4 separate regions of the Homo sapiens genome follow, and regions 1, 2 and 4 are each linked to region 3. Evidence: fine-mapped expression QTL. A gene starts in region 3. Each other region holds a variant in brackets. All regions are shown on one strand. Distances are between the middles of the regions. Region 1 overlaps SNX27 (sorting nexin 27). Region 2 overlaps SNX27 (sorting nexin 27). Region 3 holds the start of SNX27 (sorting nexin 27). Region 4 overlaps SNX27 (sorting nexin 27).

Evidence for each region. PIP is the estimated chance that this variant, and not a neighbour inherited with it, causes the effect. A credible set is the group of variants that fine-mapping cannot tell apart.
Region 1: its variant is the best candidate, but not a certain one, in a credible set for the expression of SNX27 in transverse colon (GTEx, PIP 0.57).
Region 2: its variant is the best candidate, but not a certain one, in a credible set for the expression of SNX27 in whole blood (INTERVAL, PIP 0.80).
Region 4: its variant is the best candidate, but not a certain one, in a credible set for the expression of SNX27 in coronary artery (GTEx, PIP 0.69).

The regions. Positions count from the first base shown.
Region 1 is chr1:151,683,023-151,691,022 of GRCh38, forward strand. It overlaps SNX27 (sorting nexin 27), which reads left to right. Exons shown (of 12, transcript NM_001330723.2): 8 at 334-423. Among named protein-coding and RNA genes, the nearest start is that of CELF3, 30 kb to the right of the region's middle. The variant A/G (reference allele first, on the strand shown) is at 3,573.
Region 2 is chr1:151,643,971-151,651,970 of GRCh38, forward strand. All of the region lies in intron 2 of SNX27 (sorting nexin 27), which reads left to right. Among named protein-coding and RNA genes, the nearest start is that of SNX27, 36 kb to the left of the region's middle. The variant T/G (reference allele first, on the strand shown) is at 3,628.
Region 3 is chr1:151,608,353-151,616,533 of GRCh38, forward strand. SNX27 (sorting nexin 27) reads left to right here and starts at 3,698. Exons shown (of 12, transcript NM_001330723.2): 1 at 3,698-4,160. The coding sequence starts at 3,850. It overlaps LOC124904420 (a long non-coding RNA gene), which reads right to left and starts at 5,016. Exons shown (of 2, transcript XR_007066622.1): 1 at 4,839-5,016; 2 at 2,165-4,047. RefSeq lists an enhancer at 3,474-3,573 and a silencer at 3,614-4,053.
Region 4 is chr1:151,692,619-151,700,812 of GRCh38, forward strand. SNX27 (sorting nexin 27) reads left to right here. Exons shown (of 12, transcript NM_001330723.2): 10 at 293-421; 11 at 806-865; 12 at 1,752-6,462. The coding sequence ends at 1,799. CELF3 (CUGBP Elav-like family member 3) reads right to left here. Exons shown (of 13, transcript NM_007185.7): 13 at 7,440-8,194. Among named protein-coding and RNA genes, the nearest start is that of CELF3, 20 kb to the right of the region's middle. The variant C/A (reference allele first, on the strand shown) is at 4,461.

The DNA of each region.
Region 1 (8,000 bases), 75 kb after region 3:
AGACTCTGTCTCAAAACAAACAAAAAAACCCCATCAGATCTTGTGAGAACTCCCTCACTATCATGAGACCAGCATGGGGAAACCAGACCATGATCCAGTCACCTCCCACCGGGTCCCTCCCTCGACATATGGGGACTACAATTTGAGATGAGATTTGAGTGGAGGCACAGAGCCAGACCATATCCCTGGACATGTGGCAGAGTTCACTGGTAATGATGGTGGTCCAAGTGGATAAGAGATTTTCTGAAAATGCGTCTGTGTCTGTTTTCATCGAGAATGTACATAATAATGATTTTTACACTCCTTTCTGCTCTACTTCTGTTTTGGTGATAGGCAGTCGATGATGTGAAGAAAGGTTACATCAAAGCAGAAGAAAAGTCCTATCAATTACAGAAGCTATACGAACAAAGAAAAATGGTCATGGTAAGTTTATGTCCCCATAATCCCTTTAAAAATGCCCCTTCCTACCTTTAAAACCTATAGTCCTAGTCATTTTTGAAAGGATTACAACCTGGTTAGTGGCTTAACTAATTTTAAAAAAGGAGGGGAATAGGGACCTTGATGCAAAGTCCATTGTGTTTCTCCATTTAACACACAAAGATCTTGAATTACTGTGTATTAGTACATAATTTTATTATTATTTTGGGGGGTGGGGTGGGGGAGGGACAGAGTCTTGCTCTGTTGCCCAGGCTGAAGTGCAGTGTCGCGATCTAGGCTCACTGCAACCTTTGCCTCCTGGGTTCAAGCGATTCTCCTGCCTCAGCTTCCCGAGTAGCTGGGACTACAGGCATGTGCCACCACACCCAGCTAATTTTTGTATTTGTAGTAGAGACAGGGTTTTGCCATGTTGGCCAGGCTGGTCTCGAACTCTTGACCTCAGGTGATCCACCTGCCTCGACCTCCCAAAGTGCTGGGATTACAGGACTGAGCCACTGAGCCTGGCCCATAATTTTATTATTAATAATAACTATTTTTTGGTTAAAAAGTGCTAAAACAAAAGTTGTGTAAAACATTACAATAGGATATAGATAAGATTGTATAAGACCTGATATTTAGCTTTTTAACATTAGGAGTTATTTTAGTCATGATTTAGCAATAGCAAAATCATTTGTTTTTACAGCTTCCATTTCTGCAGTTGCTTAAACATTTATGCTCCGTAGTGCTCTTGGTTAGTATATCATCCTAGAATTGTGCTATTTGATTCAATAGCTACTAGACTCATGTAGGTATTTAAATATAAATTTAAATTCATTTAAATTAAATGCAATTTAAAATTCAGTTCTCTAGCTGCTCTAGCCACATTTCAATGCTAAGCAGCCATATGTGCACAGTGAATAGCTAGCATATTGGACTGTGCAGGTATAGAACATTTTCATCATCACTGAAAGTTTTGCCGAACAGGGCTGCCTAGAGTATTCCTTAAATGGCTTTAAATTCATTTTCAATTTGTATCTGCCATAGATACAGGGATGGAAATTGTCAAAAATAAAATTAGTAAAGAACACATAAAAATTTCTACTCATTATAACATTTTTAAATTTCTCTCTTGGCAGATTCACATGCAGTTGAAGTTTTTTCAATTATACATGCTTCTCAACTTACGATGGGGTTACATCCCAATAAACACATCTTAAGTTGAAAATATTAAATCAAAAATGCATTTAATACACCTAACCTACCAAACATTATAGCTTAGCCTAGCCTATCTTAAATGTGATCAGAACACATATTACCCTACAGTCAGGCAAAATCATCTAACACAAAGCCCAGTTTAGAATAAAGTTATTTAAACTGTTTTTTTTTTGAGACTGAGTCTTGCTGTGTCACCCAGGCTGGAGTGCAGTGGTGTGATCTCAGCTCACTGCAACCTCCGCCTCCTGGGCTCAAGCGATTCTCCTGCCTCAGCCTCTCGAGTAGCTGGGACTATAGGCACCCAACACCACGCTTGGCTAATTTTTGTATTTTTAGTAGAGATGGGGTTTCACCATGTTGGCCAGGCTGGTCTCGAACTCCAGACCTTGAGTGAACCGCTTGCCTCAGCCTCCCAAAGTGCTGGAATTACAGGCGTAAGCTACCGTGCCAGGCCTAAAGTTATTTAAAGTTTTGAACAAAAATTTGAGGTACTTGTAAAGACAGCAGAAAAGTTAAAAAAAAAATTGAAGTACAATGTCTACTGCACACACATTGTTTTCACACCATCATAAAGTCAAAAAAGCATTAAGTTAACCATTGTAAGTTAGTGACCATCTGTATCATTTTCATTCTTTAGTAGTGATTCTGATAGGTCATTTGAATTCTTTTGTACCTTCTGTGTACTTTTCAGGAGAGAATATTGATTCATGTACATTAATTGGGTTGGAATAAGAATGCAAACAGCTGCGGGGCACGGTGGCTCACACCTGTAATCACAGCACTTTGGGAGGCTGAGGCGGGTGGATCACCTGAGGCCAGGAGTTCGAGACCAGCCTGGCCAACATGGTGAAACCCCATCTGTACTAAAAATGCAAAAAGTAGCTGGGCGTGGTAGCATGTGCCTGTAATCCCTGCTACTCAGGAGGCTGAGGCCAGAGAATCGCTTGAACCCGGGAGGCGGAGGTTGCAGTGAGCCGAGATTGCAACACTGCACTTCAGCCTGGAAAACACAGTGAGACTCCGTCTCAACAACAACAACAACAACAAAAAATGCAAACCAGTCAGCCATTGAACTTAGCCTGTAATCTTATATCTAGCTAAGTTAGTTATTTTAATCATTTATGTGATGAAAAGTAATAAATCTCTATACCTTAGAAAATTGCCGAAGATCAGGGAGCCACCTTACCAATGTTCTACGTATCAGCAGGCTGACATAGAAAATGCAAAATCTTTTAAATGTAATTAAATCTTGGCAGAATTTTGGTTAGGAGAATTTTGCTATGTGTGAGACAGAATTTTAAAACACGACTTCCACCTGTTCTTTAAGATAATGGCATTGTCTTCTATATATTAATGCATGATTCTGACCAATACATTTGCATCTTTTTGGTGAAAAGGGCCAAATACTAACAGGCCATCAACTTCTGCAGTAATCCTTTGCCTTTGCTAAAGCCAACAGAGTTTTCTTGTTTCTGAAAAGTTAATAGAGTCAAAATAATTTCATAAGGTCTTCTGATAATACCAGTGTGGAATACATACTGTTTCTTTGCATTTATAGTATTCCAAACACACTATCTTTCCATCTATGTATTCAACAAAACATATTTGTTGAGTACCAAGTACGTGCCAGGCACAGTGCAAGGTGTGAGAGAAATACATAGGTTTGCATTGTGCTGTGGCAAAATATAGAAAATCTGAATTTAATAAACACAGTAATCTATTATGAAGTCATTTTTAGACTTGTTTATATTTTGTAATCACCCAGGTAAAAACTCAAGTATAGTTGATAGACAGATATGTTTCCCCATGGTCTTTTGCCATTGTGTATAAAATATGCTTAAACATTTGTGGAATTAGATTGTCTTGAAAACCTAGTGCCAACATATTTCTGTGTACTAGCCACATGATATGATAGTCAGATTTTGAAGAAAGGCTCATCA[A/G]AGTTTGAATTTTATGAGTATAATATGTATTCAAGTATCAGTGTTCAAAGGCATTAGCCTAGCCAATATTAGGTCATGGTCAATACATTGAAACTTCTCACATGGGCCTTCTGAGCCCATAGGCCCTGATGCCATTAACCATAGCAACTAAGTGTGGTGAACAGGCCTACGATTAGGCCAGGTCACTACAATTAGTAGTTGTCACATCACTGTGAGAACTGCAGCAACACAATGAACTTCTCAGTTTTAGTTTCTTTTCTGTAAAATGGGGATATTCCGATTATCAGCTATTAAGTAGAATCTTGACAAAATACACCAAGATTCTTGGAAGATAAATAAGCTTTGTGTAAGTTCCCCTGTCCTCCAAATCTTCAAATACAGAAGAGAGCTCACGTCTGTGCATAGTTTATAATACCCAGTGTGATCAAAAACATTTTTGTTTTTTACTTACTTACAAAGTTAGACTGAATCTCAAATTTGGATGGTTGAGAATATAATATACAAGAAACAATGTTTTCTCTTCTCTTCCTTCCTCCCTCCCTCCCTTTCTGTCTCCTCACACAAACAGTAGACATGTGTAAATTATGCTTTTCTTATGTTGAAGTGGCCTGATTTTGCCCTTGTTGAACAGATAAATAAAGAGCTTTTGTGTTTCTCTACATAATTTGTATTGATTTCACACAAGGCAGCATGTATGTCAGTTTTTCTCAAAGTGTGGTCTCCAGTCTACTTACATGGAAGACACTTTTGAAGCTGCTTAAAATGCAGATTTCTAGACTCCACCCCACATTTACTAAGCCAGAATCTCTGGGGGTAGGACCTAGGGAACTTTATTTTTAAAAAGCACACTGGTGATTCTGGAACGTTAGGTGCTTCAGAATCACTACTCTGATTCTGGTTTTGGGAGAGTTGGCTCTTGAAGTTCCTCTCAGTCCCTTACTTCTATTTTGGACCTGGTTTGACCCTTAGCAGGTTGTTTGGGAGAACAGAGAGTTCTCTGGAGTGGACCTTGACCCATTCACCTAAAGTGTTCTGCTCTGTTAAACACTGAGTCTCTGCTTTAAAAACTGTCGGCCTGGCGCGGTGGCTCACGCCTATAATCCCAGCACTTTGGGAGGCCGAGGCGGGCCGATCATGAGGTCAGGAGATCGAAACCATCCTGGCTAACACGGTGAAACCTCGTCTCGACTAAAACTACAAAAAATTAGCCGGGCGTGGTGGCGGGCGCCTGTAGTCCCAGCTACTCAGGAGACTGGGGCAGGAGAATGGCGTGAACCCAGGAGGCGGAGCTTGCAGTGAGCCGCGATCGCGCCGCTCACTCCAGCCTGGGCGACAGAGCGGAGTCTGTCTCAAAAAAAAAAAAAAACAACGAAAAACAAAAAAAAAAACTGCCCTATGTCTGTATTTATTTGTCTTGCTGAATATTGAACATTTATAAAATATCCTGTACTATACCTGTCCAATTCTCTGGCTTAAATGGGCCACTTTCTACATGATACATGAATAAAGGAAGATAATTCGGGATACATAGTTACTCAAAACTTAAAGTGAAAACTAAGGGAAGCTGTGTCCTTGGTGAGACAACAGAGTAAAGTCTCACTGGGAGACAGGGTGGTCAGAGAGACTCAGGTTGGGTAGTATTTGTCAACTTTAAGTGGGAAGTCCCTGAAAGGAGAATGGGCAGGATGATTTGGTGTTTTAAATACCAAATACCCTTTTAAATATCCTTATGTAAACATGCTTAAAAGCAAAAATTCAGCGAGGCGCGGTGGCTTACGCCTGTAATCCCAGCACTTTGGGAGGCCAAGGCAGGCAGATCACGAGGTCAGGAGTTCGAGACCAGCCTGGCCAGCATGGTGAAACCCCGTCTCTACTAAAAGTACAAAAAATTGCTGGGTGTGGGGGTGCACGCCTATAATCCCAGCTACTCAGGAGGCTGAGGCAGGAGAATTGCTTGAACCCGGGAGGCGGAGGTTGCAGTGAGCTGAGATCATGCCACTGCACTCCAGCCTGGGCAACAGAGTGAGACTCTGTCTCAAAAAAAAAAAAAAAAATTCACCTGTTTTTACGAATTTTTGATTTATATAAATAAATTTTTGTAACTCATTTTAGGTTTAGGGACACGTGCAGATTTGTTACATAGATAAACTGCATGTCATGGGAGTTTGGTGTACAGATTATTTTGTCACCCAGGTAGTAAGCATGATACTACCTGGGTGTTTTTTCTGATCCTCTCCTGTAAAGTTTTAAATGTTTCTTCTTTGAGGCTTTGTGCAAGCCCAAGAATGTAGAGACTGCCCACTTAATGCTGATAAATACTGCCCAATCTGAGCTCTCTGAAAACCTTGTCTTCCAATGAGACTTTACCTTTATCGGCTCACCAAGGGCACAGGTGCCCTTAGTTTTCACTTGGGTTATTTTTAGAGCTTATGCCATTAAGAAGTCCCCTGAAGGTCTTTTGCTTTCAAGGACTACATTCTTGAATATGGAGGGATAAATTAGTCTTTTGATTCAGAGGGGACGGACAGGGCATGTATTATGTGCCTGACTGGTCTAGGCACTTTATATGAAGTCTCATTTTCTCCTTATAACAACCCTGCAGGTATTATTCTTACTTTACAGAGAAGTGAAGTCTGAGAGATTAAGATTCTTACCTAAGATGACGTAGCTTCTCAGAAGTGGAACTAGAATTTGAAAATGTGATTTGAACCCATTTTTGTCAGGCTCCAGTGCATATATTTTTCCCTGCATCAGGGAAGACAGGATAGCAGCAATGTCTTTTATTTCCAGATGGCAGAAGAGAAGACCCCAGGTAGAATAACTTACTCAAGGTCACAAAGAGAGAGTTTAAGGTACTCAGAGCTCCACGCTTCTTCTGATCTCTTTTCCCAAATCCCTGCCTTTGTCGGCATGCTTCTCTCTTTTTAAAAGATCTATTATAGTAAAAGTCCCAATTAGAGATTGTGGCAGAAATATTTGTCAAAACAGTAGTGGTACCTCTCAACGAAGAGAACTCTCAACAGATGTGCTGTATGTAATCCTGTTTTGTTAAAGGACATGAGTAGTACTAGTTTCAAGGGTCAACGACACCCACTGGCATTTACAGAGGTGTTAAGTGTCCTGGAGCAGAATTGCTGCTTATCGAGCATGTAAAGTTTCTGATGACTATGTTAGGAAGATGGCTTGGATTGAGTGCCAGAGGCCTGGTTGCTAGGGTGTTCTTTTTCTTTTAACATTTTATTGTATCTATATATACTTTTTTTTTTTTGAGATGGAGTCTCAGTCTGTTGCCCAGGCAGGCTGGAGTGCGGTGGCACAATCCCGGCTCACTGCAGCCTCCACCTTCCAGGTTCAAGCAATTCTTCTGCCTCAGCCTCTCATGTAGCTGGGATTACAGGTGCATGCCACTATGCCTGGCTAATTTTTGTATTTTTAGTAAAAATGGGGTTTCACCATGTTGGCCAGGCTGGTCTCGAACTCCTGACCTCAGGTGATCTGCCTGCCTTGGCCTCCCAAAGTGCTGGGATTACAGGCATGAGCCACCACACCCAGCTGTATAAATTTTTAAATACATAAAGAAGTTGGAAGAAAAATACAATTAATCCCCTTGTATCCATTACCCAGCTTCGATAGCCTTCGACTTTCTGCCATTCATGTTGCCTCTATCTCACTCACATGCTTTTTTCCCCTCAGGAGATTTGTGTGTTTGTTTGTTTTACTGTCACTGACTTGAAGCTCACCCCAGGGATTTTTAAAAGTAATTTCCAGATACTTTAAAAGTTTTTTTTTAGCTGTCATTTATTAAATGCCTAATTATGGCTGAGTACTATGTTAAATATCTTTTTTATTTTTATTTCTTGTTTTGAGACAGGTCACTTATTTTGAGATTGCAGTGGTGCAGTCTCAGCCAGGCTGGAGTGCAGTGGTTCCATCATAGCCTTGACCTCCTGGGCTCAAGCAATCCTCCCACCTCACCCTCCCAAGTAGCTAGGACTACAGGTGCCCGGCAAATTTTTTTTTTGTTTTTTTTTTTATAGAGATGGGGTTTCACTATATTGCCTAGGCTGGTCTCTAACTCCTGGGTTCAAGTGATCCTCCCACCTCAGCCTCCCAAAGTGTTGGGATTACAAGTGTGAGCCACCATGCCCAGCCAAATACTCTGTATTTAATGCTCACAAATCACACTGTGGTTTAGATGTTATTATTATTTCCCATTTATGGAAGAGGAAACTGAGGCACCTGGGATTAAGTAATTTGCCTGCCTTAAAGTAGCTTGCGCAAGGTTGCACAGTTAGGAAGTAATGGAAGTAATGGGGCCAGGATTCAAGCCCAGGGTAGTCTGGGCCTCTTCCTCACTCCTCTGTGTTTCAGGCATTGCTGTTTATTATAACCCCAGAAGAGTTCTGTTCTATACCACCCACCCCTGTC
Region 2 (8,000 bases), 36 kb after region 3:
TAGTGTGTTCACAGAGGTTGCAGTGAGCCCAGATCACACCACTGCACTCTAGTTTGGGCAACAAAGTGAGACTTCGTCTCAAAAAAAAAATAGATAAATAAAAGTACAATTAGTAATTTCATTCCTTTTCTCAAGTTCCCAAGGTTTTAGGTAATTCCCAAAAGGTCTCAACATCCAGTCTGCTCTACTTTTAGGATGTGACCTTGATTTCAACTTCTTACATGTCTTATGACTCAAAGTTAGCACTTTTGAAGCATAAAACAAATTTGTAACATTTTCATCACCTCAAAAAGAATCTCATTCCTTGTAGCCATCATTTTCCAAACCTCCCATCCCCTCCAATTCTAGGAAAGCACTAATCTATCCTCTGTCTTATAGATTTGCGTATTCTGGACATTTCATAGAAATGGAATCATGGTTTTTTTTGTAACTGGCTTCTTTCACTCAGCATAATATTTTTGAGGCTTATTCAAGTTGTAGCATGCATCAGTACTTCATTTTAACATTCCATTATATGGATATACCACTTTTATTTATCCATTCTTCAATTGATGGACATCTGGGTTCTTTCCACTTTTGACTATTATGAATAATGCTGTTATGAGCATTTGTGTACACGTTTTTGTGTAGATATGTGTTTTCATTTTTCTTGGATATATACCTAGGAATGGAACTGCTGGGTCATATGGTAACTCTTTAGGTTTAACCTTTTGAGGAACTGCCAAACTGTTTTCCGAAGTGGCTGTACCATAGTTTTTACTCTTACGTTTAGGTCTGTGATCCATTTTGAGGGATTTATTTATTTATTTATTTAGTATATTGTGATATAAAGGTCAAGGTTTTTTTGTTTGTTTGTTTTTGAGTGTCAGCTAGGCTGGAGTGCAGTGGCGCAATATTGGCCCACTGCAGCCTCTGCCTCCCGGGTTCAAGCGATTCTCCTGCCTCAGCCCTCCTGAGTAGCTGGGATTACAGGCATGCGCTACCACACCTGGCTAATTTTTGTATTTTTAGTAGAGATGAGGTTTTGCCATGTTGGCCAGGCTGGTCTCAAACTCCTGACCTCAGGTAATCCACCCGCCTCGGCCTCCCAAAGTGTTGGGATTACAGGTGTGAGCCCTTGACCAGGGTCAAGGTTTTGTTTTTGATTTTGTTTTTATATGGATATCCAGTTGTTTCACAGCAACCTGTGTTGAAAAGAAAGTTCTTTCCTCATTGAAATATCTTGGCATCATTGTGGAAAATCAATTGACTATGTGTGGTTCTATTTCTGAACTTTTTACTCTGTTTCATTGGTCTGTTCCTTATGTGTCTGAACATTTGTGTCATTTTGGGATTGGTTTCTGTTAAATGTCTTTTCCCTTGAGAATGGGTCATATTCTTCTGGTTCTTTGTATATTGAGTCATTTTGGATTGTATCTTGCATATTTATGAATGTTACATTGTGGAGACTCTGGGTTCTGTAATATTCCTCTGAGGAGTATCGATGTTTTTGTTTTAGCTGGCAATAAGCTGTAAGCTGTGTCGCCTTCTGTGGGTTAAACTTCAAATCTCAGTTTAATTCTTTCAGCCTTTGCTGTGCTACTTTGAGTCTGTATACATCCAAGAAGGGATTAGTCTGAGATACATGTGGTGTTTATTCTTAGAATTAAGGATCACCTTCTCTGGTTTTCTCTTGTCTTGGATTCTCCACTCACTCTGGTAGCAGCCATGGTTACCTAGAATCTTTTCCCTATATGTTTGAGTCAGAAAGACGTCACTTTCTGAGTTTTAGTTACTTAAATTGTGCTATTTTGTAACTTATGCCCACAAGCAGGGCAAAGCCCTCTTAATGCAGGAGTGTACCCCACCCTGTGCATCATTGCTCCATGTTTTGAGTCCCCTCCACAGTCTGCCTGCTTTTAGTGTGTAATTCAGACTCCTCAGATAATTGTTTTTGTATTTCGTCCAGAATTTATAGTGGTTACAGCAGAAGGGTTGGTCTACAGGAAGTGTATGCACTACTTGAAATGGAGTTTTCAGTTCTGTCAGGTTTTTCTTTATTTATAATGAATATTATATCTTGATGAATTGATCCCTTTAACATTATTTATCTCTTTATATAAGTCTCTATCTGTAATATATCTATCTGTCTTTATCCCTGGTAATATTCTTTGTTCTGAAGTCTTTCTCTCATATAACATATGAGCCACTAACATATAGCCACTAGTAGCCATGTCACCTTTCTTTCGGTTATTGTTTTCGTTGCTATATTTTCCATTTAACCTATTTATACATTTATAATTAAACTGGGTTTCTCATAGAAAGCTTAGAGCTGGGTCTTGCTTTTTTATCCAGTCTGGCAATGTTTTTATTTGGAATGTGTAGACTACTTACCTTTAGTATAATTATTGCTATAGTTAGGCTAAATCTACTATCTTGTTCTTTGCTATCTATGTTGTATCATTATTTATTTTTTTCCTCATTTCCTGCCTTCTTTTGGATGGATAGAGTATTTTTAAATGATTCTATTTTATCTCTACTATTGTTTTATTAGGTATAATTTGTTTTTTTTCTTGGTTTACAGTATATATCTATAATTTATGAACATTTACCTTCAAATTATATATTTGAATTTGTAGTTGTATAGACATAATATATAGTACATATATATTATATATAGTATAACACTGTATATAGGTAAGTATATCTAATATATCTAATTTTATAATATATAAATATATAATATATATTTGTATTGGCCATTTTGTCCCCCCGTCAGATGTTAATTCCTACAAATTTGTGAGTTTTCTAGCTTTCCCTCTGTTACCAATTTCTAACTTTACCCCACTGTAGTTATAGAAGATACTTAGCATAATACCTTCTGTGTGTGTGCGTGTGTCAAGGTTTCTCTCTGTTGCCCAGGCTGGACACAGACACACACACACACACACACAAACAAACACACACTATATATATAATTTAAGACACTTACAAGAGTATATTTCCCCCCGCCATCCTTTGTGCTATTGTTGTCATACATTGACTTCTATATGTGTTATAAACTTAATGATACATTGTTATCTTTGCTTTAAACAATTGCCTTTTAGGCTTCAGGATTGTCAGTTAAATATAATTGTTTTTGCCTGGGTCTACTGACAGACAGGTTTACATCATCTCTATTACTTTTTTTTTTTTTTTTTAATTTGTTTTTTGTTTTTGAGCTGGAGTTTTGCTCTCATTGCCCAGGCTGGAGTGCAGTGGTGAGATCTCAGCTCACCACAACTTCCGTCTCCCAGGTTCAAGTGATTCTCCTGCCTCAGCCTTCCGAATAGCTAAACTACACGTGTAAGCCACCATACTTGGCTAATTTTTGTATTTGTAGTAGAAACAGGATTTCACCATGTTGGCCAGGCTGGTCTCGAACTCCTGACCTCAAGTGATCTGCCCACCTTGGCCTCCCAAAGTGCTGGGATTACAGGCATGGGCCACCGTGCCCAGCCTATTACATGTTTTAAGGTCATAAAACTGCTACTTCTGGAATATTTCTTAAACTTGCTTGATTTGTCTAAATTGAGCTAAAGCTGTAAGGTCTGGCTGCTGGGCTCCCTGAAACCTTGCACATATCTTACTGTATGACTGTATTTCGTT[T/G]TGAGTCTCTGGATTCTGGGGTTTGGACAGATGACCATAGTGAGGCCTGCAGAAATATGCATGTCCTCAGTGTTTGGACTGCCAGCTGCAAGGCAGAGCCAAACCCAATATGGCCCCATCATCCCTGGCTCAGCTGTGCTACCTGGCCATGCTGGAAGGGGTTTGATCTTCCAGGAATTTGCTTCACAGCTCTTTCCTGTCCCAAGATCTATGCCTGATGTGTAAATTCAGGACCCAAAAGGGCACAAAAAAGCAATAACTACTAAATATAAGGAAAACAACTCTGTATACAGCATGTATAAAGAAAAGCAAGGTATATTTGGGGAGATAAAAGTTGTAAAGGCATTAAGATGTGTGTTTGTTGAGAAAAAATAAATTTGTGCATTTAAGAAGTTAAAAAAAAAAACAACAAAAAAACAATTGCCTTTTAAAGAGTCGGGGTTTTTTTGTTTTTTGTTTTTTGTTTTTGTTTTTTGAGGTGGAGTCTCACTCTGTCACCCAGGCTGGAATGCAGTAGTGCAATCTTGGCACCCTGCAACCTCTGCCTCCCAGGCTCAAGTGATCTCCCACCTCAACCTCCTGAGTAGCTGTGACCACAGGTGCGCACCACCACGCCCAGCTCATTTTTTGTGTTTTTGGTAGAGATGGGGTTTCATCATGTTGCCCAGGCTGGTCTTGAACTCCTGAGCTCAAGTGATCCGCCAGCCTTGGCCACCCAAAGTGTGCTGGGATTACAGGCATGAGCCACCACGCCTGGCGTTAAAGAGATTAAACATGAGAAAAGAGTTATTTTATATTTGATCACATATTTACCATTTCTTTCTTTCTTTCTTTTTTTTGAGACGGAGTTTTGCTCTTTTTGCCCAGGCTGGAGTGCAATAGCGCGATCTTGGCTCACTGCAACCTCCACCTCCCAGATTCAAGCAATTCTTCTGCCTCAGCCTCCCGAGCAGCTGGGATTACAGGCATGAACCACCACGCCTGGCTAATTTTGTATTTTTAGTAGAGACAGGGTTTCTCCATGTTGTCCAAGCTGGTCATGAACTCCTGACCTCAGGTGATCTGCCCACCTTGGCCTCCCAAAGTGCTGGGATTACAGGCGTGAGCCACCATGCCCAGCCCATATTTACCATTTCTGATGCACTTTATTCCTTTGTGTAAATCTAGTTTCTGTCTGGCATTAGATTCCCTCTGCTTGAAGAACTTGCATTAATATTTCTTGCATTAATAGTGCAGGTCTGTTGGCAATGAATTCTCTTAGCTTTTGTTGATGTGAAAAAGTCTTCATTTCACCTTTATATTCGAAAGATTTTTTCAGGGTATAGAATTCTTGGTGGATTGTTTTTTTCTTTTCTTTTTCTTTTTATTTATTTATTTATTTTTGAGACAGAGTCTTGCTCTGTTGCCCAGGCTGGAGTTCAGTGGTACGATCTCGGCTCACTACAGCCTCTGCCTCCTGGGTTCAAGCAATTCTCTGCCTCAGCCTCCCGAGTAGCTGGGATTATAGGCGCCCGCCACCACGCCCAGCTAATTTTTGTATTTTTAGTAGAGACAGGGTTTCACCATGTTGGCCAGGCTGGTCTTGAACTCCTGACCTCGTGATCCACCCGCCTTTGCCTCCCAAAGTGCTGAGATTACAGACGTGAGCCACTGTGTCTGGCCGATTTTTTAAATTTTTATTTATTTATTTTTTTAAAGTACCAAAAGAAAAAAACAATCACTCCATTGTAATCCCAGCACTTTGGGAGGCTGAGGCAGCAAGATTGCTTGAGGCCAGGAGCTTGAGATCACCCTGGGCAACATACTGAGACTCTGTCTCTACAAAAAATGAAAAAATAGCTGGGCATGGTGACACAATGCTGGTAGTCCCACTTACTTGGGAGGCTGAGGCAGGAGGATCACTTCAACCCAGAAGGTTGAGGCTGCAGTGAGCTGTGGTCATACCACTCCACTCCAACCTGGGAGACAGAGCTAAACCCTGTCTCAATTTAAAACAAAATCACTCCAGTCTTCTGGTTTTCATAGTTTCTGATGAGAAGCCTGCTTGTTTTATTTTTTGGTCTTTTCTATGGATTATTTTAACCCTCTCTGGCTACCTTCAAAGTTTACTCTCTTTTTAAAAAACAGAGACAGGGTCTCACTCAGTCATCCAGGCTGGAGTGCAATGGTGCAATAATAGCCCACTGCAGCCTTGACCTCCTGGGCTCAAGTGATCCTCCTGACTCAGCCTTCCGAGTAGCTGGAACTACAGGAATGTGCCACTGTACCTGTCTAACTTTTATATTTTATTTTATTATTTTATTTTTTTGAGATGGGGTCTCACTGTGTCTCCCAGGCTGGAGTTCAGTGGCACCATCTTGGCTCGCTGCAACCTCCACCTCCCAGGGTCAAGCAATTCTCCTGCCTCAGCCTCCCAAGTAGCTGGGACTACAGGTGTGCATCACCACACCCGGCTAATTTTTGTATTTTTACTGGAGACAGGGTTTTACCATGTTGGTCAGGCTGGCCTTGGACTTCTGGCCTCAAGTGATCTGCCCACTTCAGCCTCTCAAGATGTTGGGATTACAGGTGTCGGCCACCGCACCTGGCCACCTAATTTTAAAAATTTTTAGTAGAGATGGGGTCTTGCTATGTTCCCCAGGCTATTCTCACACTCTCAGCCTCAGCAATCCTCCTTCCTCAGACTCCCAAAGCACTGAGATTACAGGCCTGAACCACTGCACCTGGCCTGCAGCATTTTCTCCTTATCTTTAGTTTTCAGAGTTTCATTTTTACATGTCTAGGTGTTTGTTTCTTATTTGTCCTGCTTGAGGAATATGTGGTTTGATATCTTTTATTATTTTTGGAAAACTATCAGCCAGTATGTTTTCAGACATTTCTTCAGCCCATTCTTTTTCTCTTGCCTTTCTGGAGGTTCTAGTTACCTGTGTTTTACACTGTTTGATATTGTCCTAGAGCTTTTGGGTGTTTTATTCTATTTTAGCTCTAATTTTTCTCTTTTTTTTTAAAATTTATTTATTTTTTATTGATAATTCTTGGGTGTTTCTCACAGGGGGGATTTGGCAGGGTCATAGGACAATAGTGGAGGGAAGGTCAGCAGATAAACAAGTGAACAAAGGTCTCTGGTTTTCCTAGGCAGAGGACCCTGCGGCCTTCCGCAGTGTTTGTGTCCCTGGGTACTTGAGATTAGGGAGTGGTGATGACTCTTAACGAGCATGCTGCCTTCAAGCATCTGTTTAACAAAGCACATCTTGCACCGCCCTTAATCCATTTAACCCTGAGTGGACACAGCACATGTTTCAGAGAGCACAGGGTTGGGAGTAAGGTCACAGATCAACAGGATCCCAAGGCAGAAGAAGTTTTCTTAGTACAGAACCAAATGAAAAGTCTCCCATGTCTACTTCTTTCTACACAGACACGGCAACCATCCGATTTCTCAATCTTTTCCCCACCTTTCCCGCCTTTCTATTCCACAAAGCCGCCATTGTCATCCTGGCCCGTTCTCAATGAGCTGTTGGGCACACCTCCCAGACGGGGTGGTGGCCGGGCAGAGGGGCTCCTCACTTCCCAGTAGGGGCGGCTGGGCAGAGGCGCCCCTCACCTCCCGGGCGGGGCGGCTGGCCGGGCGGGGGGCTGACCCCCCGACCTCCCTCCCAGACGGGGCGGCTGGCCTGGCGGGAGGCTGACCCCCCTACCTCCCTCCCAGATGGGGCGGCTGGCGGGGCGGGGGGCTGACCCCCCCCACCTCCCTCCCGGATGGGGCGGCTGGCCTGGCGGGGGGCTGACCCCCCCCACCTCCCTCCCGGACGGGGTGGCTGCCGGGCGGAGACGCTCCTCACTTCCCAGATGGGGCGGCTGCCGGGCAGAGGGGCTCCTCACTTCTCAGACGAGGCGGTTGCCGGGCAGAGGGTCTCCTCACTTCTCAGACGGGGCGGCCGGGCAGAGATGCTCCTCACCTCCCAGACGGGGTCGCGGCCAGGCAGAGGTGCTCCTCACATCCCAGACGGGGCGGCGGGGCAGAGGCGCTCCCCACATCTCAGACGATGGGTGGCCGGGCAGAGATGCTCCTCACTTCCTAGATGGGATGGCGGCTGGGCGGAGATGCTCCTCACTTTCCAGACTGGGCAGCCAGGCAGAGGGGCTCCTCACATCCCAGATGATGGGCGGCCAGGCAGAGACGCTCCTCACTTCCCAGACGGGGTGGCGGCCGGGCAGAGGCTGCAATCTCGGCACTTTGGGAGGCCAAGGCAGGCGGCTGGGAGGTGGAGGTTGTAGCGAGCCGAGATCACGCCACTGCACTCCAGCCTGGGCACCATTGAGCACTGAGTGAACGAGACTCCGTCTGCAATCCCGGCACCTGGGGAGGCCGAGGC
Region 3 (8,181 bases):
ACACTGTACTGTGTTCTTTCAAATCTCTGTGTGTTTGAATATGCTGTTTCCTTTGTCAGAAATGCCCTTCCACCACTATCCTTCTCTGCCGCAATTGCTAACTCTTCTCATCTGTAATCACTTAGCTCAGCTCTCCCATTTCGTGAGTCATCTTCCCTAACTCCTCCCTCTGGATACGTGGAAGTCCCTCCGATGTGCAATCCTAGCAGCTTGTGCAGGACTCTCCTCACAGCTCTCATCATGCTCTATTGCAATGGTTTTTTGTTTTCTCTCCTGCTAGATTGTGAATTCTCACCAGCAGTAATGGTGTCTTATTTTCTTTTGTTATTTTAATGCTCTGATCATCTTTTCTTCCAACCTGATCCTTTCTAAATATTTTTAAATTTATTTTTTGAATAGGCAACACTCATGTGACTGAAAATTCAGAAGTTACATAAAGGTATAAAGTGAAAAGTCTCTCTCCTACCCCTGTCCCCGCCTCTGACACCCTAGCTATCCAGTCTCCCTCCCCAGCAGCAATCAGTGTTATCAATTTCTTGTGAATACTTCTAAAGATATAAAAATATATATGGTTCCCTTTTATTTTATTATTATCTTTTTAGATGGAGTCTTGCTCTGTCGCCAGGCTGGAGTGCAGTGGCGTGATCTTGGCTCACTGCAACCTCCACCTCCCAGGTTCAAGCGATTCTCCTGCCTCAGCCTTCTGATGAATACAGGCACCTGCCATTATGCCCGGCTAATTTTTGTATTTGTTTTGTTTTGTTTGTTTTTGAGACAGAGTCTTGCTCTGTTGCCCAGGCTGGAGTGCAGTGGCACAATCTCAGCTCACTGCAACCTCCACCTCCCGGGTTCAAGTGATTCTTCTGCCTCAGCCTCCCGAGTAGCTGGGACTACAGGTGTGCACCACCACACCCGGCTAATTTTTGTATTTTTAGTGGAGACGGGGTTTCGCCATGTTAGCCAGGCTGGTCTCAAACTCCTGACCTCAGGTGATCCACCCACCTCGGCCTCCCAAAGTGTTGGGATTACAGGCGTGAGCCACCGTGCCTGGCCCATGGTTCCCGTTTTATATACAAATAGTATCATGTTGTATAGATTGTGCTGCACTTTGTTTTCACCAAATCATATATAGTATTGATGATATGATCATTCCATATAAGTGCATACAGAGCTTCCTTATTCTGTGTTTACATTGATTCAATTTTCCATTGTGGATACATTATGATTTAACAAATAAACATTAGGTTGTTTTCAGTCTTTTGTGAATACAAACAATGCTGCAATGACTTAACTTCATAAAAACATCACTTCACACATGTGCAAGTGTAACAGTAGAATGAACTCCTGGAAGTGGAATCGCCTTCAGTTTGAGGAATATGTGTATTTGTAAGTTTGACCATGTCCTGTTGCCTTTCGGGGACATTCAGTATATTTTTATCTAATTCAGAGTAGGCATTCAGTATATTTTTATCTAATAAACCAATGAAAAAATAACTCTTTTAGGGGAGGCTCCCTTCTTTTTCCTTTCTCTGATGCCTTGCTTTCCCCATCCAGTGCTCAGTTCAAACCAAATTATTCATATTCAATCCAAATGCCACTATTATTTTGGAGCAAAACTCTTATATCAACTTTATTGTGTAACTAGTCAAGATCCTTCTTCATTAGCTTGGTTGTAAAATAAGGTCATATTAATTTTTATGTTCTAATTATAATGACTTTGAGTCCTCATCCCATATTTTGTGAGATCTCATCTTTGTTTTTTGGAGACAGGATCTCACTCTGATGGTCAGGCTGGAGTACAGTGGTGTGATCTCAGCTCTCTGCAGCCTTGACCTCCTAGGCTGAAGCGATCCTCCCACCTAAACCTCCTAAGTAGCTGGGACTACAGGTATGTGCCATCATGCCCAGCTGCTTTTTTTTTTTTTTTAGATATAGTCTCGCTCAGCCACCAGCTAATTTTTTATTTTTTGTTGAGATGGGGTCTCACTATGTTGCCCAGTTTGGTCTTGAACTCCTGGGCTCAAGGAATCCTCCCACCTCGGTCTCCCAAAGTGCTGGTATTACAGGCATGAGCCACCACACCCAGCCTTTAAAAATTTGGGGGGACTCTTTTGTAATAACAGTTAGCTTAAAACACAAACACATTGTACAGATGTACAAAATATTTTCTTTCTTTATATCTTTATTCCATAAGCTTTTTTTCTATTTAAGGCAATTTTTAATTTTATGTTTTAAACTTTTTTTTTTGGTTAAAAACTAAGACTTAAACACAAACATAGCCTATGCCTACACCAGATCTGGATCATCAATTTCACTGTCTTCCACCTCCATCTCTTGTCTCACTGGAAGGTCTTCATGGGTAATAACATGCACAGAGCTGTCATCTGATGGTAACAATAACTGGGGCCAGGCACAGTGGCTCACACCTGTAATCCCAGCACTTTGGGAGGCTGAGGTGGTTGGATCACCTGAGGTCAGGAGTTCGAGACCAGCTTGGCCAACATGGTGAAACCCTGTCTCTACTAAAAATACCAAAAAATTAGCCAGGCATGGTGGCGCATGCGTTTAATCGCAAGGGATTTGGGAGGCTGAGGCAGGAGAATCACTTGAACCTGGGAGGCAGAGGTTGCGGTGAGCCGATATCGTGCCATTGCATTCCAGCCTGGGCGATAAGAGCGAAACTCCATCTTAAAAAAAAAAAAAACAAAAAAACAAAACAAAACAAAAAAACACAATACTTGGAATACGTGGAAAAAAATCACAATACTTAGAATACCTAGAATACCTTCTGAAGGACCTGCCTGAGGCTGCTTTACAGTTAACTTAAAAAAAAAAGTAGAAGGAGTACACTCTAAAATAGTGATAAAAACTACAGTGAATTCATAAACTAGTAACATAGTTCTTACCATTATCAAGTATTATGTACTGTACATAATCATATGTGCTATACTTTCACATGACTGGCAGTGCAGGTTTGTTAACACCAGCATCACTCCAAACATGTGAGTAATGCTTGTGCTATGACCTTATGGTGGCTACTGTGCCACTAGGTGATAGACATTTTTCAGCTCCATTATCATCTTAGGGGGCCTCCCTCGTGTTTGCAGTCCATTGTAGACCAAAATGTCCTTATGTGGCACATGACTGTAGTTGCAATACAGGACAAGAAAGTTGCACAATAACTGGGCCTTAGTTCCTGATACTTAGTAGCTGGATGACTTTGAGCACTCTAAGGTTGTTTCCTAATAACGTAAAATAGGGAAGCTAATCGTGATCCGGTTGCCTCACAGGTTGTTGGGCCCTGGTCAACATATAAGTTACTGTGCCAAAAAATGAGTTGATATAATTTAAGACTGTGTTGAATCACAAACGTTAAGTTATTCTAACATTATTGTTTTTTAGAGGTTATGAAATGAAAGGGGGGGGGGCGAAAAACTTGGTCCGCATCAAGAACTGAATCATTTTACCACGCTGGGTGCTGGGTTATACTCTCCCCACCCAGCAGATCAAACTCCTAACCCAGCATGAAAGATAAACTACAACTCCCGGCAGGCCTTGCTTCCGAACTGCGTCTTATAACCTCGGCTCAGGCCCAGGCCCAGACCGCTCCCCGCCCCCGCCACCCATAAACTACATCTCCCAGGAGGCCCCACGGTGCCCGATTGTCCGCTTTTCGCCCGCCCCCTGCCTCCTCTTCACCCCGCGCCAGCAGCTCGGTGGCCGAGTCGGTCCCGCGGCCGGCGGATCGGGCGCGCGCGTCGGGGGTCGTCCGGCTGCCAGGCAGGGCGAGCACGCGCCGGGAGGCCTTGGAGGCGTAGGGGGCGGGGGTACGGCTCGCCTGCTCGCAAGATGGCGGACGAGGACGGGGAAGGGATTCATCCCTCAGCCCCTCACAGGAACGGAGGTGGCGGCGGCGGCGGGGGGTCTGGGCTCCACTGCGCCGGGAACGGCGGCGGGGGAGGCGGCGGCCCGCGGGTCGTGCGCATCGTCAAGTCCGAGTCCGGCTACGGCTTCAACGTGCGGGGCCAAGTGAGCGAGGGCGGGCAACTGCGGAGCATCAACGGGGAGCTGTACGCGCCGCTGCAGCATGTGAGCGCCGTGCTGCCCGGGGGGGCGGCCGATCGGGCCGGGGTGCGCAAGGGGGACCGCATCCTGGAGGTGTGAGTATCGGGGCTACCCGCCGCCCCATCCTCCCCGCGCCCCTCCTGCCCCTGCACTCCTCGCTACCCTTGTCACCCCCAGGCCGCACCTCCCCCGAGCTCCGAGCCGGCCTCCGGACCCCCGCCCCTCAGGCCTCCGCAGCCGGGCCCCTCCTTGTGGGCTGCCCTCCCACCACCCGCCCCGGGGCTTCTGCGACGCCGGTCTCCCACCCCGTCGTCTCCAGCTGATGCCCTTGCGCCCCCAGTGCTCCTCCCTGTGCCCCGATTACTCTGGGCTCTTCTCCGCCCCTTTGCCTTCCCGTTTGGCGTGCTGCATTCTGCTCCTCACTCCCCCTCGTCTTGCTCAGAAGGAACCTCATCTGCTCCTTACTGACGGCGTTTCGTTTTCTGATCCAGCCAGTACCGTGTCCCCCCCAAGTTCTCATCTTCAGCATCGCAGTTTCGTTCTCCACCACTCCCCTCCGCCCCCGTGGACTGCCCCTTCTGCCCTCCAGACCAAGTAGGCAGGACCTCTGGTCTGCTCCTACTTTTCCTCCGGAAACACCATCCCTCCCCGCTCGTCTCCTTTTTCTTTCCTTAGTTACCCTCTCCTCATGGTTACGCTGCCCCTAAATTTTTCCATCCCACCGTGTGCCCCTTTCCTCCCCTCCTTTTTGTATTTCTACTCCAAGAGTTTACCTTGCTTTCTGACCCTTGCATGCCTTTGGGGTGGGGGGCGTGGGATTTGACACCGTAGTTTCTCTTCTCGGTTGGCCCCGTATCACACCCTAATTTGGAATCTAGCGTCTCCATCAGCACACCCCTCTGAGAGCATCCCTTCCCTGGCCTCCTGCCTTCACTCCTGCTCTATACTCATGCCTCCTCCTAGTCAGGTTTATGGTAGACCCCTTGTAACTCCTCCTCCTTCAAAACTACTTCAAGCCCTTTTTGGGTCTTTGACCGCTTTGCTTTTTTAGGGCATGCCCGTCTCTGCTGCCTCTTCTACTCTATCCTCCTGTGATCCCACACTTGACTTTGTCCTAGTCTTTCCCTCCCCTAGGCTGCTTTTCCTTTCTTCTGTTTTTTAAGGCGCCTTCTGCTGCTGCAGCCCACCCTCTCTCCCCTGCTGCAGTCCCTCCCCCTTCATACGCCTCCCCCACCACATCCCTCCATGCTCTTGCGGGATGCTGCCTTGTCTTGCAATCTCTGTGCACACCGCCTCCATTACCCTAATCTAGGTGTTACATTTGCCTTTTTGTACTTCGTATTGAAATTCGGATAGTGATTGCCGGTTGACTTGCAGGTGGTGTGTGCTCGCGTTGTCTCCGTTCTCCTCAGCAGTCTTCAGTGCTGTGTTTCTGCTTACTGAATCTATGTTGTGCATTCCTTTTTTACACTTTTACTCTCTCCCTCCATATTTCGATTTGCCCACTTGAAATCGTTCTCATTTTTTATAAATTTTAATTGTAATTTCCGCAACCTTCTGTTGCCTCTTGTAAAACAGTAGGTTTGCAAAAGGGATAGTTTTTTGAAAATCTGCCTTATAGAGAAATCCATTCCTTCTTACTCATCTCGTGCCATCTACCCTTATCCTTGACATTCTTAACTCCATGGTGTCCACTCATTCTGTTTCCTCACCTCTTCCACCTCAAGAAATGGTTGGTTTTAACCTGGGAGAGTTGATTGAAAAAAAAAAAAAGAAATAGTTGCTCACCTAGGCCAGTGTTTGGAGACAGTATACCTTTCCTCTGTCCTTTCTGTAAATAGATGCTTTCTTGTTTCATTAATGTCCTACATACTGTTTCCTAGTATTCCTAGTATTGTCTGACAATATATTCTTTTTTTTTCCTTGAGATGGAGTTTTGATCGTCACCCAGGCTGGAGTGCAGTGGCGCGATCTCGGCTCACTGCAACCTCCGCCTCCCGGGTTCAAGCGATTCTCCTGCCTCAGCCTCCTGAGTAGCTGGGATTACAGGCATGTGTCATCATGACCAGCTAATTTTGTATTTTTAGTAGAGACGGGTTTCACCATGTTGGCCAGGCTGGTCTGAAACTCCTGACCTCAGGTGATCCGCCCGCCTCGGCCTCCCAAAGTGCTGGGATTACAATAATGACTTTCAGATTTCTTATACTTGGGCACCTAATTATTTTCTTTCTAGATAACTCAAAATTTGTGGCTGATGTTTTCTTCCAATAGAAGGTCTCAGAATTGTCACTTTCCTTTCCCTTTGGAAGTTAATTTTGGACTCAGCTTCTTATTTTTAAATTTAAAACTAAAGCATTTATAATTATAAATTTATGATGAAGTTCTACATTATTTACTCTTCACAGGATCTAAAGGAACTAAACCAAAAAGAATAATTCTGTAGGAGACTATAGTTAATATGATCTATCTTTGCAGATACACGCACACATCCCAACATACATAGTTAGTGGCTTCTTGCCTTTATTGTGGCTTCTGCCCAAGAGCCTAGGTATAAACTGTAAAGGAGACCTCAGATAATCCCCTAGGAAAGGTAGAAGGACTTGCCTTAGGCTCAGGTTCCAGACTAGGAAGCTGGGAAATCTTTGCCTTCTAGAGAAAAAACATTACTTTTTGGCACATCCTTTGTGGTAAGTAGAGAACTTTGTCACTTTTAGTGGGCAGGGGAAAAGAATACTCTGCCTAGAAGACCTCTCTGGAAGGTTGTGATAATCAGAAATCTTCCTGGCATTGGTTTCTCACTCTTCCAACTATCTGTATTTTGATTTCCAAATTCTCTGAACCTTCTTTGGTACTATAGGGGAAGTAATGATAATTACAGCCCAAAGCCAAGCTAGTGGTACATTCTGTGAGACCCCAACTATACAGTGTCTTTCTCTTTTCTTTTTTTTTTTCTTCCTTTCTTCGATAGTCTGCGCCTTCTCTTTAGGGTTTCAAGTGAGAGGGGAAATCAGCAACCAAATAGATGTGGTTCTTGAGGGATATCTGTGCCCGCTACTTGTCTCGATCTTGGTTAGGTTGATGCTAATTTTCCTAAAGCATTTTTTAGGCAATACTCCTTAGAGCTTTTGTCTGTCCTCCAAGTTCTTAAAGTTTACCTCTGTTGTCCCAGGAAAGCTTTGCATGTTGCTGAAGAGCCAGGTGGGGTCAGAATTAGGGATAGGTGGATTATCATTGTGTGGATATAGTTTGTATCAAGTCATAGGTGAATGTATGGACCTTGATAATTGCTATTTAAGACTTTTCCCTATTTTAGATTCTTCTATTGTGTTTACAAATTGTTTTTGTAACAATTTTCGTATTTTTCAGTTGTTTGGACAACTGACAGTGGTGTGAAAGAACAGAGTAACTTTGAAATTTAAGGGCATACAAACTTGGACACAAGTAAGAGCTTCAGTTTCTTTGTGTTTCTTTTAAAGTCGGCTTACCAAGGCTCTGTCCTAATCTTTAGTCCTGAAACTAAATTGGAGCCCATATGGTTCAGTTTGCCTTTTCTCCTTTCAAAACTGTCTAGATTCTAACAGGGCTTGGTACTGCAGTATGAACAAGCCCTCTGGGCTCTAAATTTTACTGCAGATGGAAAGTTTTTTTGACTAGCAAAGCTGGTTTCCACCTTGTAATTTTTCCCAGTGTAACATATACTGAGTGTTTTCCCTTTGATGTGTATGTACCTGGAGGCTAATGAGTAAAGAATGCTTTCAACAAACAGAACCAAAATAAATATGTCTTTGCACTAATTATATAGTATGTGAAGTAACATTTGACTTCAGGTTAATTTTCTTAAGGTTAAAGTAGTTCCAAGGACTCTTGATTGATTTCTCGAGAGACGCTGCTGGAAGGTTTTAGTGTGTGGTGGATATGGATATAAAACTGTCTGTATTTTTGAAGGATTAGTTTAAGCATGGACCACTAAGATTGGCTTGCAAGCATTCAAAATCATGATATATTTATGCTAGTCAGTATATATGCTTTCCTCTTTGATAGCCACCAGATAATAGACTCATCAACTTTCCCTCATTAAAGTCATAAGATAAAATAAAACTGTGTATATCAATTTGT
Region 4 (8,194 bases), 84 kb after region 3:
CTGGAGATACTTTGATGCTCACTTGCTTGTGACGTTTTAATTCCATTTTAGGGGGAAATGAAATCAAAACTGTATTTTGACTGGGGCAAATAAACAGGCATGGAATCCACACTGATCCTCAACTTCATTGGCTGCTTCCACTGATTTGTATTCTTCTATCACAGTCCTTTCTCTGAAGCGATGCAGACATCCATTCATTTCTCTTCTGTCTCCTGGTTCAGAACCCCCTACCTCAGTTCCCCAGCACTCTGAAACACAGACTGTACCTTACTCCCTTGTCTTGGTTGTCCAGAACCAGGTAATTGCATTTGAATGGGATGAGATGCAGCGATGGGACACAGATGAAGAAGGGATGGCCTTCTGTTTCGAATATGCACGAGGAGAGAAGAAGCCCCGATGGGTTAAAATCTTCACGCCATATGTGAGTGCAATTTGGGGAAAGTAACTGGGACTTAGTTTGTTTTTTTGTTTTTTTTTTCAGCTAAATGCATAAATGGAGAGAGAGATAGAGCTAGTAGTTGTCTTGAGATCCGAACCTGTTTGAATCCTGGAGCCCCCAGATTCATCCTGTTTTTGCTTTAGGCCTGACTGGAATTGGCAATTTCCTATCCCACTTGGCTCGTAGTTACCACTAGAAGGAGCTAGAGAATAGTGGATGAACCAGGCCTGGGTTTTATGGTACTTGTCAGGGTTTTTCTCTAGACTGAGTTTGGAAGATGGGATGACTGGGGACAGGAGTTCAAAGGCACAGTCCTGAGATGCCTGCTCTTGAGAAGTTAGTGAGTGTCACCACCTTTTTTTTCAGTTCAATTACATGCATGAGTGCTTCGAGAGGGTGTTCTGCGAGCTCAAGTGGAGAAAAGAGGTAATTCTGAACAGTCCTTGAATTGACCTTTTCATCTTTTTGTTTCTTTAAAATTTATAGGCCTGTGGCCAAATACCTGGGACCCTCACCTCCATCTCTGTCTTTCTAGGAATATTAGTTAGAGACTGATTATCTCATGTGAGCCAGGACATTCTTCCAGCAAGGTTGGCCTCTGGATGGTGAACGGGCTGTGCAAAAAAGCCCTGCTTCTTCCCTTGTCTAGAGGGTGGACATTGGCTACAGGCTCTTCCATCTCTCATGACTTCATGGACCCTCCTCTGCCAGTTTTTTAAATCAGATCACCCTCCATGTTGTTCCTGACCCACAGGGGAAGCTGTCCTCAGTTGTAGCCGTCTTGACTGGATGAGTCCTGGCAGTCTTTCTAGGCGAACCAAGAATGTTTGTGTGAGGGAAGGTGTTTGCTGTTGCTTTACTGCTGTCTGTATGTGCCAGTGCTGGAACAGAATTTGGAAGATTCTGAATAATTAGTTACTTATTCTCAAAGAAAATCTTTGAAAGAATCAGGAGGTCAAGTCAAGAACATGAAAATTTATATTTTAGTACAGTAGAAAGAACATTGGGCTCTGGGAATTTTATCTGGGTTTTCTCCTGGCTTTTTTTTCCCTCTGTGTAATTTTGGGTAAATCAGCCTCCCTAGCTTTCAGTTTTCTCTTCTGTGAAACAGGAAGACTGAACCACGTAATTAATATCCAAGGTCCCTTCCGGCTCTAAAAGGCTATGATTCTAGATGAGAAGTTATATCAAGAAAGATGTGGCCAATCAGATTGAGTCATCCAGGCATACCTTTTTAGCTTCTGTTTGTGGAGTTGTCTCCAGATAAGAGGAGATGTGCCTTCCCAATAACTCTTTTTTTTTTTCCTTTCAGAACATTTTCCAGATGGCGAGGTCACAGCAGAGAGATGTGGCCACCTAGCCTTTCCTTATCCCCTTCCCTTCCCTTCACCCCCATCCTCTTACTCCTTTCATGTCCCATTTCAGACAGAGTAACCATTAACAAAAAAGAAGAGAAAAAGTTAAAGTCGTTATATTCAAAAGCCCTAAACTAAATATTATTAATAACCCCCTCTGAATTTCATGTCTCTGGAATTGAGGTGGTAGTGAACAGCAGATCGGTCAGCACCAGAAGTCAACTGAGTTAAGGCAGGAAAAGAAATAAGCCCAACCAACTTGCCAAAGGTATCTTTGTCCTTTCACCTGGGCCTCATACCAACAGCCTCTCCTTGTACTATATTTTTAAAACTGGAACTATGAACTTCATCCATTTGCACTGTTCAGACATATATATGTATGTATGTAAAAATTATATATACACAAATTAGCTGCACGTATATACATATATATATTTCTTTTTAAATTTCATATTGATGGCAGTACCTTTTTTAGCTTGTGTTTTTACACACCTTTCACTAGAATCCATGACCTCCCTCGTGCTCTCTTTCTTTTGAAACAAACTTTAAAAAGGAAAAAAAAGCATTTTACAGGGAAAAATACCTCTCCTCATGAAGGACTTGAAAAGTTTACAACCTGCTTGGATTTTTGCCCCTTTTTTTGTATTGAGTATAGATTCCGGCTCATGGGTTGCCATAGAGTCTAGGAACAAGGAGTATAGTTTCTTTATCTTCCAAGAGGGTGCTGGGGAGGAGAAAGAGGTGTGTTTCTCAAGGTTAACAGGCTGTAGTTCTGCAGGGAGAGCCTGAAGTCCTGGTATGGGCTCTTGATTCTGTGACAATTTTTTTGATCCATCTATTTCTCTCACTCCTGGCTTTCTAGCCACATTCTGCACCTCCTTCCTGCTTTCCTAGAGCCTCGGTATGCTTTCCCTCAACCGACCCTGGCTCAGGAGGTTGATGCCATGGGAACCTGAACCTGAAACACTTCATGGTAGTAATTTCCTGTTTTCCTTGCCTTTTTTTTTTTTTTTTTTTTTTTTTTCTGAGACAGGGTCTTACTCTGTCGCCCAGACTGGAATGTGGTGGCATGAACATAGCTCACTGTTACCTTGAATTCTGGGCTCAGGTGATCCTTCCGCCTCACCCTCCTGAGTAGCTGGGACTACAGGTGTGCACCACCACACCTGGCTAATTCTTCTTAAAATTTTTTTGTAGAGACAGGGTCTCACTATGTTGCCCAGGCTGGTCTCAAACTCCTGGCCTCAGGTGATCCTCTTGTCTCAGCCTCCCAAAGTGCTGGGATTACAGGCATGAGCCACTGTGTCCTTCCCTGCCTTTTTTGCAGCAGGGATAGTACTCAGGACCAGAGTTAAGCTGATACCTTAGGCACACAGGTTGGACTTACATAGAGGAAAGAAAGCAAGAAATGCCCTATGTACATGAGGTTTTACCTCCTCCATTCCTGACCAATAACCACCCATAACTACGGCATTCTCTGTGACTTCCTTAAACAGCAGTGATGGGAAGGGATCCAATAGTATCTTCAAGGCCTTGGGGAAACTTGCAGTGGGTCAGTGGTCTGTGCCAACCAAACGATAGCCCCATCCAAGCCAGCTGAGAACCTAGGAAGGAGTAGTAGGAATATGGTTGATTAGATTGGATCTCCCAAGTTTTAATTGAAAGGAGACTGAACGAAAACCTTTCTGCTTTCTGTCCGTTAAAGAGCTCCTCATCTGATCTTGCAGCTAGACCCTTTGAGACTTAAGAGCTGCATCCCAGGATCAGAAGCCAGGGCTAATTGGGGTAGGACAATATTCCCAGCCCCTAAGCTCTGTAGATAATGCATAAGAAGCACCAAGTCAGGCTCAGATGCAACTAAAACACATCTTTGAGCCTTTTCTTTTTCCCTTCTCCCCTTTCTAAACAAAAACCTTCCTAGGATGGCATCTTTTGCTCTAACTGGGAGACAGTCATAATTGGTTGTAGTCAATTCTACTAAGCAGTGTTGGGGTGGTTGGAAAGTCTCTTTTTTGTAATTTGTTTTTGCAAATCATTGTGAGGCCACTTTTTCTTTCTTTCTTTCTTTCTTTCTTTCTTTCTTTCTTTCTTTCGTTCTTTCGTTCTTTCGTTCTTTCTTTCTTTCTTTCTTTCTCTTTCTTTCTTTTGCTTTCCTTCTTTCATCTCTTTTTTGTAATTTGTTGTTGCAAATCATTGTGAGGCCACTTTTCTTTCCCCTTCCTTCCTTCCTTTTTTTCTGTTTTTTTTTTTTTTTTTTCCCAGAGTCTTGCTCTGTCGCCCAGGTTGGAGTGCAGTGGCACGATCTCGGCTCACTGCACCCTCTGCCTCTTGGGTTCAAGCGATTCTCCTGCCTCAGCCTCCCAAGTAGCTGGGATTACAGGCATACACCACCACGCCCCACTAATTTTTTGTATTTTTGGTAGGGCGGGGTTTCACCATGATGGCCAGGTTGGTTTTGAACTCCTGACCTCAAGTAATCTGCCCACCTCGGCCTCCCAAAGTGCTAGGATTACAGGAGTGAGCCACTGCGCCTGGCCCACTTTTCTTTCTTTCCTTCTTATTTTGTTATGCTGGCAGCCATTTGCCCCTGCATGGTATGGGATCAAAGAGGACAGCCTTTCCTCCCTCACCTTCTCCAAATCTAGGTGAAATCACAGAGTACAAAA[C/A]GTGAGAATGCTGAATGTGTAAAGTTGCAGAGGGATCCCTAATTTGAAGACTTTGACACAGAACTAACTTCTTTTGACTTAAATGAATTTAAAATGAGCCAAAGGACCCTGAAAAGAAGACATGTTGATTTCCCACTCCTAGATGCTAAAGAGACTTGGCACCAGCTTTGTTCAAACTGTAAAAATAGCAATTTGCCCCTACTCGCTCAGAGTGGGACAGTAGTGAACAGAGCTGGGATTCCATGCGACAGCTTGAATGCTGACCTTCAGACATGAGACATAGGGATTTGGAGGCCCCTTAGAATGGGTAGATGGTGTTATGTTCCCTTTCTGGCATAGCATTCACTTGGTGCTTTGGAGATTAGGTGAGGGCCCTATAGGTAGTTGGCCTGTTGGCAGAATTTATTTAGGAACAGCCCTTTTGAAAGTGTCCCAGTAACAACGCACCCAGCTGCAGCAAGGAGGTGGGGAAGGAGGGCACCCCAAAGGACAGCGCCTTCTTCTCTTCCACCCATGCACGGCCTTGGGTGATGGAGGCGGGTTCCCTGTGGCTGCGTGGATCCCATAGGATCAAGCCCTTCTTTGCATGAAGCAGTGTTGTGACTCTTCTCTCTCCCCTTCCTCTGCACTTCCTTTCTGTAATCCCTACTGTTCTTCTTAGTCCCAGCTTCTGCCCAGGGAGGCTTCTACCCAGACTTCTTTTGCAATTTGTCCCTGGGAAGAGGGGGTCTCCCAGTGCCCCCAGCTTCATCCCAGCAGAACCAGCAGGATCCTCCTGGTCTCTCACTGGCCTTCCTCCACACTTGGTTTCTATCCTCAGGGGTAGAAGCTCAGAGCTTTTTATGGCCCAGGAGAAAATGTAGACCCTGAGAAACCTGTCCCTGCAGAAAGGTTCCCTTGGGCCATGCTTTGGGCCCTCTGCTCTTTATATGTTTATTCTATTCTCCATTTTTCCACCCCGTCCTTACCCTAGGCCTAAACACAGGTACAGATATGTGCATGCTCAGGGCAGCTCCTAGGCCTGGACTGAGCTCTCAGGGGGGAATTAGATAAATATTCCAACATCCTCATGCCTGGCCCATTTAGTTTCATCCTTTAGTTACCCAGGCCAGTAGCTTTGGGTTATCCCTTCCTGTAGCTCCAAACCCAGCACTTGGAGCAGCAAAATAGGGCACTGACAGGAGATGAAACTCTCTCCTATCTCAGAATTTGCCAACTTCTGGGCTGGGCTCCTAGGAGGTAGTTTTCTTGAAGGGGACTGCATCCTAGTTGACCTGAATTTTCCAGACCAGGAGGGACTGCTGTGCTCTCCCTTCTCGCCATCATACTGTTTGGCTAGATTCATTCAGCAGTAGAAGCTGTTTGATCTGTTGACCCCAGCATACTGCTGTTTCTTCACCAGCTTCATTGTGTCACAGTAGCTTCCTTTGGGAGGATGATGTGATAGAACACTCAGAGAGAGGGAGGGAGAAGAGAGATAGTGGGTATGCTTCTCTAGCTCCCCATCTTCCAGGTCCACCTCTTGACTTCCTGTTCCCCTAAACCTGAGCACATCACGCCAGGCCTCTTTGCTGCCAGGACAGCATCAGCTCACTCCTCAGCAATAATCTAGGGTATGTGGGAAGGTCAGGGCTGTGGTAAGGAATAGAATCAAAGAGGGGAGTGATACGGGGTGGGGGCACTTGGCCGCCTGCTAAACTTGGACATTAATTTTATATCATGACCCCCTTTTAAGCCAGTGAGCTGGGCTTCAGTTTTTCCCAGGCCATGCACATTTAATTTATTTCAGAGAAACTCTAATTGTATTTTCACTGCAGTATCTTGTATTTTTTATTTGTGATTTAAGAAATGTGAAGAGAAAATACACAGACACAATAATGGCTAACATTGTTTCTTTCATTCCTTGTTCTAGAGCTAACCACTCTAAAATTGTTTGGTAATGTCACTTAGTGTAATTAATTGTAACATATTCTTTTAAATAAATTGATTTATTGATCAAACACTTCTTTGGTTTCCTAGACTACAAATCCTTTGGGTTGTGTGGGAAGAAGTGAACTGGGACCTTTGAGATTTGAGTCAGAGTGGTCAGTCTGAAAAGAAGAAACATCTAACCAGTTTTCCCAGGTAACTAGTGTGGCAGTTTTTTGAGTGCAGGGAATGGAGAAGGGTGAGGAAAGAAGCCACAGGAGGCCCTTGGTTTGCAGTTCTCTTCCCAGTGGCTCCTTTGAAAATTCCTTCTTCTCCTTCAGATCTCAGAGGTGATTGAGCTTACCCCTCCCATCTGCAAGCTTGCACAAAAATCCTTTGAAGAATCACAGGATTCCTTTCTCTGCCATGCAGATAGAGCCTGGCAGAGCCTTTGGTACAGATCTTAGCAATGGACCCTCCTCTCCACCCCCAGCAACAGGTATATACTTTTTCAGGTAAATCGGGAAAGTTTTTCTCTTTGGGATCTGGACTGAAAGGAACACATTATGACTATTGAACTGTCCAGCACAAAACTAGGCACTGTGGGTGGCCTTACTCTCCCCTGCTCCCACACTCCTGAGAAGAAGGGTGGTCCTACAGCCTTTTGCTTTTACAGAGGCATCTGAGGGGCTGGGGCCTAATTACCTTCTCTCAAGGGTATCTGTTCCTCTGCACATTTGTTTATGAGCTGACTCTGGTCTGAAAAGCTCAGCATTTGTGGTGGGTGAGACATTTTAATTTTTTTATAAAGCTTCATTTATTATTATTTTTACAACTTCCGATCACACGCTTTTGTTCCCTAACTGATGACCATAAGACCAAGGACCATTGTGGCACTTTGTTTGGCAGTTTGGGAAGAGACATTGTTCAGGGGCTCATTCATTCACCCACCCATTAGCTTTGGATATTTAAAATCTAAGAAACACTACTGTGCTAATGGAGGGGGGAAGTGTTACCTTTCCTAAGCAAAGAATCCATAAAGAAGAACAAAGTGGAATTCCAGAATTAGAGTTACAGTGGTTAAAGTCAAACATTTATTAGGTATCTGCTGTTGGGGGTGGGGTGGGGAGATTGTTTGAGATACTGCAACAGACACAAAAGCAAAGAAAGAAACATTTCTGCCAGCTTACAGGCTCACAGAAGAATGAGACACTTACGCATGGCCATGATACACAGCAGTGAAAGGTTTAAGTGCCATAAGGACTAGAAAAGGAAGGAGAAAGACCTGTGGATGAGGGCCGTTAAGATTTTCATGAAGAAAGTAGTGTTTAAGGTGAACTGTTTTAGTGTGAGAAGGATTTCAACAAGAAGGCATTCAACAAACATTTATTGAGCCGTTATGTGCCAGACACTGTAGTAACTGGGAATGAAAAGACATGGGAGAAAAGGGACCAAACTTGCCTAGAGAACAATGAATAGTTCTATTTGGGTATGTGTAGGAATGAAGTGGAAAGTAAGGCTTCGAAGAGCCTTGAATGCCAGGCTGAGGTGTTCTATGAAAAACAACAAAAAACAGCAGCAGAGAAGTTTTGTTTTTTATTAGCTGCAGTTTAGAAAGATTGATGCTTCAGAACATAGACAGAAGGACCAATTAGGAAATTGCTATGATTACTCAGTTAATAAGTGTAGGCAGTGATAATTGAAAAGAGGGAAATGATATGAGAAAGTTTGTGGAAGTGAAATCTTAAATGATTTAATACCATTGAGTTTATGCGAAAGTACTAAAAACTCTTGAGGTTTTCTGTCTATGTGACTAGAAAATAGAA